3 linked regions of the Homo sapiens genome follow. The protein of the gene in region 3 purifies or fractionates together with the protein of the main gene of each other region. This does not show direct contact. Each region holds a gene or a part of one and is shown on either strand. Other genes may lie near its edges.

Evidence for each region.
Region 1: the proteins of MSRB2 (region 3) and ALDH5A1 purify together in Homo sapiens (co-immunoprecipitation; 2 studies listed by BioGRID and IntAct, with this or other methods). This does not show direct contact.
Region 2: the proteins of MSRB2 (region 3) and BLTP3B purify together in Homo sapiens (co-immunoprecipitation; 2 studies listed by BioGRID and IntAct, with this or other methods). This does not show direct contact.

Annotation. Positions count from the first base shown.
Region 1 is NC_000006.12:24,525,849-24,529,605, reverse strand, and holds part of ALDH5A1 (succinate-semialdehyde dehydrogenase, mitochondrial isoform 2 precursor), read right to left. Parts: intron 1,610-3,757; coding exon 1,440-1,609; intron 1-1,439. UniProt on the Homo sapiens protein: Catalyzes one step in the degradation of the inhibitory neurotransmitter gamma-aminobutyric acid (GABA).
Region 2 is NC_000012.12:100,059,185-100,062,941, forward strand, and holds part of BLTP3B (bridge-like lipid transfer protein family member 3B), read right to left. Parts: intron 860-3,757; coding exon 666-859; intron 350-665; coding exon 1-349. UniProt on the Homo sapiens protein: Tube-forming lipid transport protein which mediates the transfer of lipids between membranes at organelle contact sites. Required for retrograde traffic of vesicle clusters in the early endocytic pathway to the Golgi complex.
Region 3 is NC_000010.11:23,119,518-23,122,609, reverse strand, and holds the end of MSRB2 (methionine-R-sulfoxide reductase B2, mitochondrial precursor), read right to left. Parts: intron 1,853-3,092; coding exon 1,748-1,852; 3' UTR 597-1,747; downstream 1-596. UniProt on the Homo sapiens protein: Methionine-sulfoxide reductase that specifically reduces methionine (R)-sulfoxide back to methionine.

The sequences.
Region 1 (3,757 bases), on a different chromosome or scaffold from region 3:
GCCATACCAGATAGTAAAATTTAAGAACATCAAAGATCAAGAGAAATTCTAAATGTTTCCAAAGAGAAAAAATAGATTTCTTTCAAAGAAGCAAGAATCAGATTTCTTGGCAATAACCCTGGATAAAAGTAGATAAAGAGGCCGGGCGTGGTGACTCACACCTGTAATCCCAGCACTTTGGGAGGCTGAGGCTGTTGGATCACTTGAGGTAAGGAGTTTGAGGCCAGCCTGGCCAACATGGTGAAACCCTGTCTCTATTAAAAGTATAAAAATTAGCCAGGTGTGGTGGCACATGCCTGTAGTCCCAGCTACTCGGGAGGCTGAGGCAAGAGAATCGCTTGAACCCAGGAGGTGGAGGTTGCAGTGAGCCGAGATCATACCACTGCACTCCAGCCTGGATGACGGAGTTAGACTCCATATCAAAACAAAAAACAAAAAAAAGAAAAAAAAAGTGGATAAAGGAGTAATATCTCCAAAGGGTTGAACCTAAAATTTTATCCAGGTAAATTATTATCTACTTGTGAATGGGAGATAAAAGACCACAAAACGACACAGAAAGTTCATGTCCTATGGAGGCCAATGAAAGAATCCTTTGAGGTATAATACATTAAGAAGGAAAATGAGTTCAGGTCTGAGCACGGTGGTTCATGCCTGTGATCTCAGCACTTTGGGAGGCAGAGGCAGGCGGATCACTTGAGGTCAGGAGTTCAAGAACAGCCTGGCCAACATGGTGAAACCACATCTCTACTAGATTACAAAAAATTAGCCAGGCATGGTGCGCGTGCCTGTAGTCCCAGCTACTCGGAAGGCTGAAGCACGAGAATCGCTGAGATCATGCCACTGCACTCCAGCCTGGGTGACAGAGCAAGACTCCATCCTCCATCTCAAGAAAAAAAAAAAAAAGAGTTCAGCAGAAAGTAAGAAAAAGTAAATTAAAGAATTTGAGGCCAGGCATGGTGGTTCACTCCCATAATCCCAGCACTTTGGAAGGCCAACGCAGGACTACCTGAGGTCAGGAGTTCGAGACCAGCCTGGCCAACATGGTGAAACCCCATCTCTACTAAAAATACAAAAAATTAGCCTGGTATGGTGGTGGGTGCCTGTAGTCCTAGCTACTCTGGAGGCTGAGGCAGGAGAATTGCTTTAACCAAGGAGGCAGAGGTTGCAGTGAGCCAAGATCGCACCATTGCACTGCAGCCTGGGCAACACAGTGAAACTCCATCTCAAAAAGAAAAAAAAAATAGAATTTGATAAATTTTATGGTCCAAATAAGTTATGATTTTTTTAAAAACCCATAAATTGCACTCTGCTCTTCAATGGACTCAACACAACTGTCTGCCTCCTGGCCAGACCTCAAAGCAGCCCAGGAATCTCTTTCAGGGTTTCCTATGTTCTCTTCTATTCTTCCTCCCATCTCCCCGCTGGCTGGAGGATCTTACTTGATAACTGGTGCCAGAGGCCCGAAAGTCTCTTCATGAGTGCACAGCATGTCCTGGGTGACATTGCACAGCAGGGTAGGCTCAAAGAAATTTTTTCCAAGTTGGTGTCGTTTTCCACCTGTCACAACGGTGGCACCTTTAGAAACGGCATCATTCACCTGTTTCTCCACCTGTGTAATGAGGAAGAAAAAAAGCTTTCCACATGATACAATCTTTTAGAATGTTTAAACTGCAGAAAACTATAACTAGTTCCATTTTTTTTTCTTTTTCAAAAAAAGTAGGTTAACAATAAAGCATGCTGGTTTCCTTTTGTAGAAGGAACCACATTTGCAGAGATTCAGAAGCAAGAGTGCCACCTTCCTCCTTGGTCTTTGATATCTTCTAGCTGTTTGATCTTCCTATTTGTTGAATGGTCTAATATATATTCGCTTCTTTCTAGGCCTGCGGCTCAGCCGTTTGCTTGGATTTGCTTTCATTGCATTCTGCGGTTATTTCTAGCTTCTTGGATCCCATGTTGTCCTATTTCCTGAACTGAGTTTTTGTTGCTTTCTGACACACATAATCTCAAGTAGTTGTTATTTATTTATTTGTTTTTGAGATGGAATCTCGCTCTGTCACCCAGGCTGGAGTGCAGTGGCATGACCTTGGCTCACTGCAACCTCTGCCTCCCAGGTTCAAGCGATTCTCCTGCCTCAGCCTCCCGAGTAGCTAGGATTATAGGCACCCACCACCGCGCCCGGCTAATTTTTGTATTTTTAGAAGAGACAGGGTTTCATCATCTTGGCCAGGCTGGTCTCGAACTCCTGACCTCGTGATTCACCCGCCTTGGCCTCCCAAAGTGCTGGGATTACAGGAGTGAGCCACGAGGCCTGGCCAAGTAGTTGTTTTAAAAAAGATGCACTGGATGTGGTCTAGTTTCTGAATTTTCATACACCAAGTTTCTGGTGTTTTGTACTCCACCTGATTGATAATTTGCTTGAGTACAGAATTCTGATACAAAATAACTTTCAGAACTTTGAGTGCACTTCTCCACTTCCGGTGTTGCTGAGGAAGTTTGAGCCAAAAATGGTTCTCACCCTTTTTCTTCTTGATAGCTTTTTCCTCTCTGAAATCTCCTAGGATCTTCTATGCTCTGATATTCTAAAATTTTAGCAATACTATATATATATATATATATATATATATATATATACACACACACATATATATATATTAGATATATATATAGAATATATAGTAGATATATATAGAATATATATATAGTAGATATATATATAGAATATATATATAGAAGATATATATATATAGAATATATATATATAGAGAAGATATATATATATTCCCTTTTCATTCATCCTACTTGGTAAGCAGTGAAATCTTTCAATCTGCAGAATAATTATTTTCCCCTAACTCTGAGAAGTTTCCATCTATTATTTACTTGGTAATGTCACTTCCTCCATTTTCCCAATTATTTCACTCCAGAACTCCTACTACTGGACGGGTATTAACAGGAGTTCAGATTAGTTCTGATTTTTTTTTGCATTTCTATTATATTTTTTGCCTCTCTATAGTTTGCTTTAAACTCCATAAGATCTCCGAAATTTTATCATCTACTTCAGGTACCGAATCTTGTGACAGTCATATGTCTAATTTCTACAGACTCTTTGTTTTCATTGCTTCATTTCCTAGAACATACTTCTTTTTTTATTATTATTATACTTTAAGCCTAGAACATACTTCTTATTAACAGTTTACAGATGTACTATCTTCCCAAAACTCTTGCAGGACACTATGAGATTTTTAGAAAATTTCCTTCCAGTTCCCTAATTTATCTGCTTCCTTCAGGGACTATTCTGTTTGTTCTTCCTGACCTTTCCTCTTATGTGCTGGTGGTTTTCCCATCATGATCCTTGGTTGTTCATCTTTCTGAATGAAGGACTGAGTTGTCGAAACTAACCTGGTCAGCTCCTTCTCAGCTCCAGCAGTGTGTTTGGGGGACACACACACACACAAGGACTGGGTTGATCAATTTGGGGATGTGTGGCATGAGTGGTCTTTGCTGTTTTAAGCTTGGGTTTATTCTAACTTGCAGGCTTCACATAAGGGCAGCTCCCTTCCCCAAAAGGCAAAGTCGAGAGAGCCCTACCCTGAGGTACCTAGCCTCGCTCTTGAAGCTGTAGTCTGCCTAGATACCTACTATATTTCTTCAGAAAAGCTGTCCTGCCCAGAACAAATGCCTCTGCTGTCTCATGTGTCTTGGTGGTGGTCGTGGTGAGAAGGGATGGTGGGAATGACCCAGAAAATTGTGCAGAAGTAGA
Region 2 (3,757 bases), on a different chromosome or scaffold from region 3:
AGTACACAGCCCAAACATCCGTGGCAGCAGAAGTTTTAAGAGTGTTTTTATTCAATTGGGGAGTAATATTTCCTTTATAAATTTCATGCATTTTGGTATCTTGTTCATGAGCATGTCTCTGGAAAATTGGATGTAGAAGATTAAAATTGTCACAAGATTTGGGGAAGCTGGTATATGTTTTACTAAAAAAATCACAATCTTTAAAGTCTTGAAACAAAGCTTCTAGGTCAGAATGTCGACAGTTTGGACAGTGCCTTGTATTTGTGGCAATCATTTCAGAACTCTGAATAGAAATTGCACGTGGCTGATCTTGATGACATTCAGATTTCACTTCAGAAGGAATGACAAACTAGAAGAGAAGAAAAATTAATCTCATCCAACTGGCAAATCCATACATCTTGAAGATAAAAGAACATGACTTAGCTCAGAAATTCTTTTTCTTGACCTTTCCCCCAAAATACTACTTTCCTATTAAGACGTAAAACACTAACTCTTCCCCTCAAATCTTATTAAATTGAGTAAAGGGGACTTACATGACCACTAAGAAGAGAATCTTTTTAAAAAACATAACATGAATTAATAATCAATGTAACATACATATACGCACAAATCATAAAATAAAAAGAACAAAATTAAATCATTACTACTACTTGTTTGTATGATACCTTTAGCATTAAGCCATCAACTCGAACATCAACATGCTCGTCAGATTTTGAATTGTCATTCAACTTGTACACAGCCATGAACTGATTAAGACTCTGTTTTAAATCCAACAGAAATTGATTTAACCATAGAATGCTTCTTTCATCCACAGTAAACTGTAGTGCATTCAGCTGGCTATAGAGGTTGGGAGATGGAACTGTGGAGACAAGATGTTTTTTAAAAATTTTTAATTGGATGGTTCTAAATCTTCCCTGAGAACAAAAAATACATGTTTAGTCAGTTTTATTCTTTCTTAAGATAAAACAAATTTGAGGTATTATTTACAAAATCAAAGTGATACATTGGAATGATAACAAACACATTTAGATAGACAAAAAAAATTTCCCATGCCTAACTGAAAAAATGTTTTAATATTTCAAAATATCTATAACATATAAATATATAAAACACATGAATATTTTGAATATATAAATTAATCTAAAACTAACTGCATAAAACAGGAAGCACTGTTTCAATTTCTTTCCTAAGGTTGTATTTACCAAGAAGCAAACCTCTAAAAACATTACCTTCTTGATGAAGTATCACATCAAAGTGGTCCTCGATCACATATTTCTGTAGACTTTACAACCTGAATCTTAATCTATATCTTCTAAAATGAGAGAGCTAAGTTAACCAATTTCTTATGAAAGTGCTATGCTAGCAGGTTCTCCTTGAAAGGAGGGACCGTGCATAAATTTATTCCCCACTTTTAATCAAGGCCTATAATAGTGCTTGGAGTAATGTAAAAACCAAGTATCTCCTGAATAATAAAATGAATTCACTCTTTCATAGCTCTCCTAAAATAAACTAATATTTACAATTAGAGGGTATATCACTTCCTGAAATATACATATTTTTCTACCATAAAAGACATTTTGTTTTCAGAGCACCTTGAAGATCTTTTATTCTAAAAATTCAGACATATTTATTCCTACAAAAGCTAAAGTTATGCATATCTAGAGCATTTAGACTAAATTTAAGAAAAATAAATCAAAGGTGTGAGATACCAGTGGAGAGGGAACACTGTAACAATGTCCTGAATATGGTTTATTTGCTTATGTTATTTATTTATTCATTCACTTTCCTTTAAGATTCACTGAATGTCAACTACATTGTCTTACCCTAAGCACAAAGAAAACAAAAAAATAGGGCATGGTCCTTTTTCCTTAAAAGTTCGTAGTTTATTACATGAGACATATACAAACAGAGAAAAATTACAATTTAAGTCTATCAGAGACATGCAATTGTGAAGTGGAGGTGCCTGCCTTTTGGGAATAGAAATAAAGTGGGTGCTGCAGAGACTGCATCACACTCTGGAAGGAAAGGAAGTAAAGGGAATATCTCAACGTAGATTGATTGATGATGGTAGTCACAGAGTAGACTAGGGAGCAAATGCTGCCCAAGACTAGAGCACAGAAAGAACCCCGATAGCAGATGTGGGACTGAAAAAGGAACCCAGGACACTAAGCAGTAGAAAGATCTATATGCAGGGCCGGCGCGGTGGCTCACGCCTGTAATCCCAGCACTTTGGGAGGCCGAGGCGGGTGGATCACGAGGTCAGGAGATCGAGACCATCCTGGCTAACACAGTGAAACCCCGTCTCTACTAAAAATGCAAAAAATTAGCCGGGCGTGGTGGCGGGCGCCTGTAGTCCCAGCTACTGGGAAGGCTGAGGCAGGAGAATGGTGTGAACCTGGGAGGTGGAGCTTGCAGTGAGCCGAGATCGCGCCACTGCACTCCAGCCTGGATGACAGAGCGAGACTCCGTCTCAAAAAAAAAAAAAAAAAAAAGAAAGATCTATATGCAGTTTCCAACAGAAGTCTACTTATAAAACAGATTAGTATGTAGTTAATAATACTTAAAAGCAGCTTGTAGAAACTTTGAATATTCTGATATCACGAAGGGAAAGAAGCAGGGTGCAAATTAAATATGTAAAAGAAATACATGCATTAAAAACAAGACTAACAATGCTATACTTATTGCTATGGGTTGAATTGTGTCCCTCCAAAATTCATTTACTGAAATTCTATCCCCCTGTAGCTCAGAATGTATTTGGAGCTAAAGCCTTTAAACAGACAATTACGGTAAAATGAGTTCACTGGGTGGGCCCTAGTCCATTATGACTCATATTCTTATAAGAACCGAACAGGAGGGACATACACACATACACAGAAGGAAGACCATGTGAAAACAAAGGGGAAAGATGACCATCTACAAAGAGAGCAGTCTCAGAAGAAATAATCCTGCTGAAGTCTTCATCTCGGACCTCTAGCCTCAGAACTGTGAGACAATAAATTTCTGTTGTTTAAGCTGCATAGTCTGTGGTATTTGTTATAGCAGCCCTAACAAATGAATATACTTACGTTTGAGCAGATATCTAAAACTGCAAGCGTACAAGCATTGTTTTGGCTTTTTCTTCTTTATTGTTAAAATACAATGTGTACGTTACTTTCACAATGGTAAAACGAAAGTTAAGAGATTATAAAAGTTGGATCATTTAGTTTTGTTCAAAACAGAGATAATGAAGAATGAAAATTAACTCATCTACATGAGGGTGCAACATACTATATTCTCTACTTTTGTTTATTTTTGAAAATTTCTCTAAGAAAACATTAAATTAAAAAACAGTTAAACTTAATCTAGCAATTCCACTACCAGGTATCTACAGGGGTCAAGTTTAAAATGCAAGGAAGGAATTTTGTAACTTTTTTCAGAAAAAAAAGTACAGATTATAGAATGAGATTATAATTCCTTTGGTACATGCTAACAAAGCTTGTATAAATAAGCCTGGATGGCTGGGAGTGTTGTCTCATGTCTGTAATCCCAGCGCTTTGGGAGGCCAAAGTGGGAGGATGGCTTGAGCCCAGGAGTTTGAGACTAGCCCAGGCAACAGAGTGAGATCTTGTATCTACAAAAAATTTAAAATTAGCTGGACATGATGGCTCATGCCTATAATCCTAGCTACTAGCGAGGCTGAGGTGGGAAGGTCACTTGAGTCCAGGAGTTTGAGACGGCAGTGAGCCACGATTGTGCCACAGTACTCCAGCCCAGGCAC
Region 3 (3,092 bases):
ATGTAAAATAATATATAACAAGTTCATAAAGAGAAAAAAAGTATAAACAAGTTTCCTTTTTGCCCATAAAGTCACAAAGAGAATGATTTATATACTTTCAGTAACAAATTATTCAAGACTCTTGATTTGTGAAATACTTGAGTTGCTATTAGTCTTGGTATAACCAAATGCCTGCTACCATGTGAGCCAATTCTTATTTGTCATTTTTAATTTAGAGGTTTTTTGTTTTTTGGTTTTTGTTTTTGTTTTTTTTTTTTTTTTTGAGATGGAGTTTTGCTCTTGTTGCCCAGGCTGGAGTGCAATGGTGTGATCTTGGCTCACTGCAACCTCCACCTCCTGGGTTCAAGCAATTCTCCTGCCTCAGCCTCCCAAGTAGCTGGGATTACAGGCATGTGCCACCATGCCCGGCTAACTTGGTATTTTTAGTAGAGATGGAGTTTCTCCATGTTTGTCAGGCTGGTCTCAAACTCCTGACCTCAGGTGATCCGCCTGCCTTGGCCTCCCAAAGTGCTGGGATTGCAGGTGTGAGCCACCACGCCTGGCTAGAGTTTTTTTTATAAAAGAGCATGTTCATTGACTTAGCCAAAAAGCAAACATAAATTTTAGTGAATATTTTATTTGGACATTTTAAAGTTTAGCTTTGTAACCAGAAGGTATGAAGGTGAACATTTATTCATAATCATTGAAATCTAACCAAGTCCTATTGCAGTTTATTTGTGGGTAGAATGGTTGGAAGTAGCATGCTCAAGACATTTAAAATTTTGAAAAAAAAGTCATGCATCTGATTGATCACCATATATGCTCCCAGAGCACAGCTCCTCCGTAATCCTGCTCTTCAGTGCTAGCATTGTTGATTCCTTGGATCCTGTATTTTCCTTCCTCTTCTCACTTGATCCCTTACTTATGTCTGTCAAGGACTGAAACGCAGTGGAAGGTGCAGGGAATTTTTGTAGGAATTGTTTGGCTTAATAGTCCATCAGCCTCCTGATGTTCCCAGAGTCATGCCCTCGTCTCAGGTGAAGCTGTGGAAGTGTTTGATGGAAACAGCTGTCCCTCTGTCGTTTTGTGAAGTTCTACTCCAAGTGGGAGTTGGGTGATATGGTTTGGATGTTTTCCCTCTCCAAATCTTATGTTGAAGTATAATTCCTAGTGCCGGAGGTGGGCCCTGCCGGGAGGTAACTGGGTCATGAGGGTGGATCCCTCATGGCTTGGTGCTGTCCTGGTGACAGTGAGTGAGTTCTTGAGAGATCTGGCTGTTTAAAAGTATGTGGCACCTCCCTACCACTCTCTCTTGCTCCTGCTTTGCCATGTGAGACGCCGGCTCCCCCTTCACCTTCTGCCATGAGTAAAAGCTCCCTCAGGTCTCCCCAGAATCCGAGCAAATGCTGGCACCATGCTTTCTGTACACCCTGCAGAACTGTGAGTCAATTAAACCTCTTTTCTTTATAAGTTACTCAGTCTCAGGTATTTTTTTTTCTTTTTAATTTTGTTTATTTTTCTAGTTTTTCTTTTTTTTTCAAATTCTCCCAGATCCTGATCAGGTACTTCTTTATAGCAACACAAGAACAGCCTAACACACAGGATTAAGTTGATTCCAGGTAAATAAATTAAGAGAAGCAATGACTCGCTGGAGACAGCAGCAAATTCAGCCCAGTTTTATTGCAAATAAAACAAGTCATTCAAGTGAATTGTGGAAATTGAGGGTGCACGTGAAGGGGTGGCAAGGGAACGGGACTCTTGAAGATGGTCAGTGTTTCCTTGGTTTGAACTTCAAAGCCACACTGTTGATGCAAAACCTCTGACCATTGGGCCCAGGTCCATCAGGAAACACGTGACCTAGATGAGCTTCACACTGCAAAGGACAGAAGCCTCTGTCATCTCCAAATGCAAACAAAGCTCTTTATGTAAAACCAGACAGACGAACCCCCCCAAAATCACTCCACTCCGGAGTCTGACATCTGTGTTAGGAGAAAAAGTCTATTGCATCCGAATTCAATTAAGAAATGAAAGAAAGCAGAACACAGTCATGGTAAATAGTTTTACTTTATCAATAGGATGTGAGCAAGTTATTAAATTTGGGCCTTTACAGTTACTCATCTAAAAATGGGGATAATTATCATACCTACATAAGAGAGCTGTGGGGACAATTAATTGATATATTACATGTAAAGCATTAACATAATTCCTGGGTAAGTACTGAATAATATTGTAGTACCCAGTGTATTATTATTATTTATTACTTAAGGCAAAACCACGCTATCTTAATCAGCTTGCCTCTAATGTTTTACAAAACCCATGAGTCAGAAAATGTGAGCAGCTAAGGATATCAAAATGAATTTGTGATCTGGATTTAAGCCACTCTCTCCTACGGGGCTCACAGAAGGCAGAGGTGCTGACGTCACCCGCAGCATTGCTCTGCAGGCCAGTGACACGCTGCAGGGTGCAAAAGGAGGGTGGAGAGATGGAGGTGCCAGTCACACTGGGTAAGTCAAAGATGAGATGCCAGTCACTCTGACAGGATAAGGACTTCCTGCTCCTTATCCCTGCTCAAAAGAAGGTGAAGATCCTACCTCTGTTCTCATCTCTGTGGAAGGTTAGAACCAGGAAAGGCCACATTAGAGAGAGGCTGGAGAAGACTTTTCTCTTTTTTGCAGTGCCCAGATTGAAGGGAGAGAGTGATCGTTATTGGCATGTGTAGAAACCCCATGTGTTCTGGGCTGGGTGTGGTGGCCCACGCCTGTAATCCCAGCACTTTGGGAGGCCGAGGCAGGTGGATCACTTGCGGTCAGGAGTTTGAGACCAGCCTGGCCAACATGGCGAAACCTCATCTCTACTAAAAATACAAAAATTCACTGGGTGTGGTGGCAGGCACCTGTAATCCCAACTACTCGGGAGGCTGAGGCACTTGAACTCAGGAGGTGGAGGCTGCAGTGAGCTGAGATCATGCCACTGCACTCCAGCCTGCAAAACAGAGCGAGACTGTCTCAAAACAAAACAAAACAAAACAAAACAAAGCAAAACAAAAAAGAAACCCCATGTGTTCTGAAGACAAAAGAAAGTACCCCTATAAAAGGACACCAGATTTGCCAAGA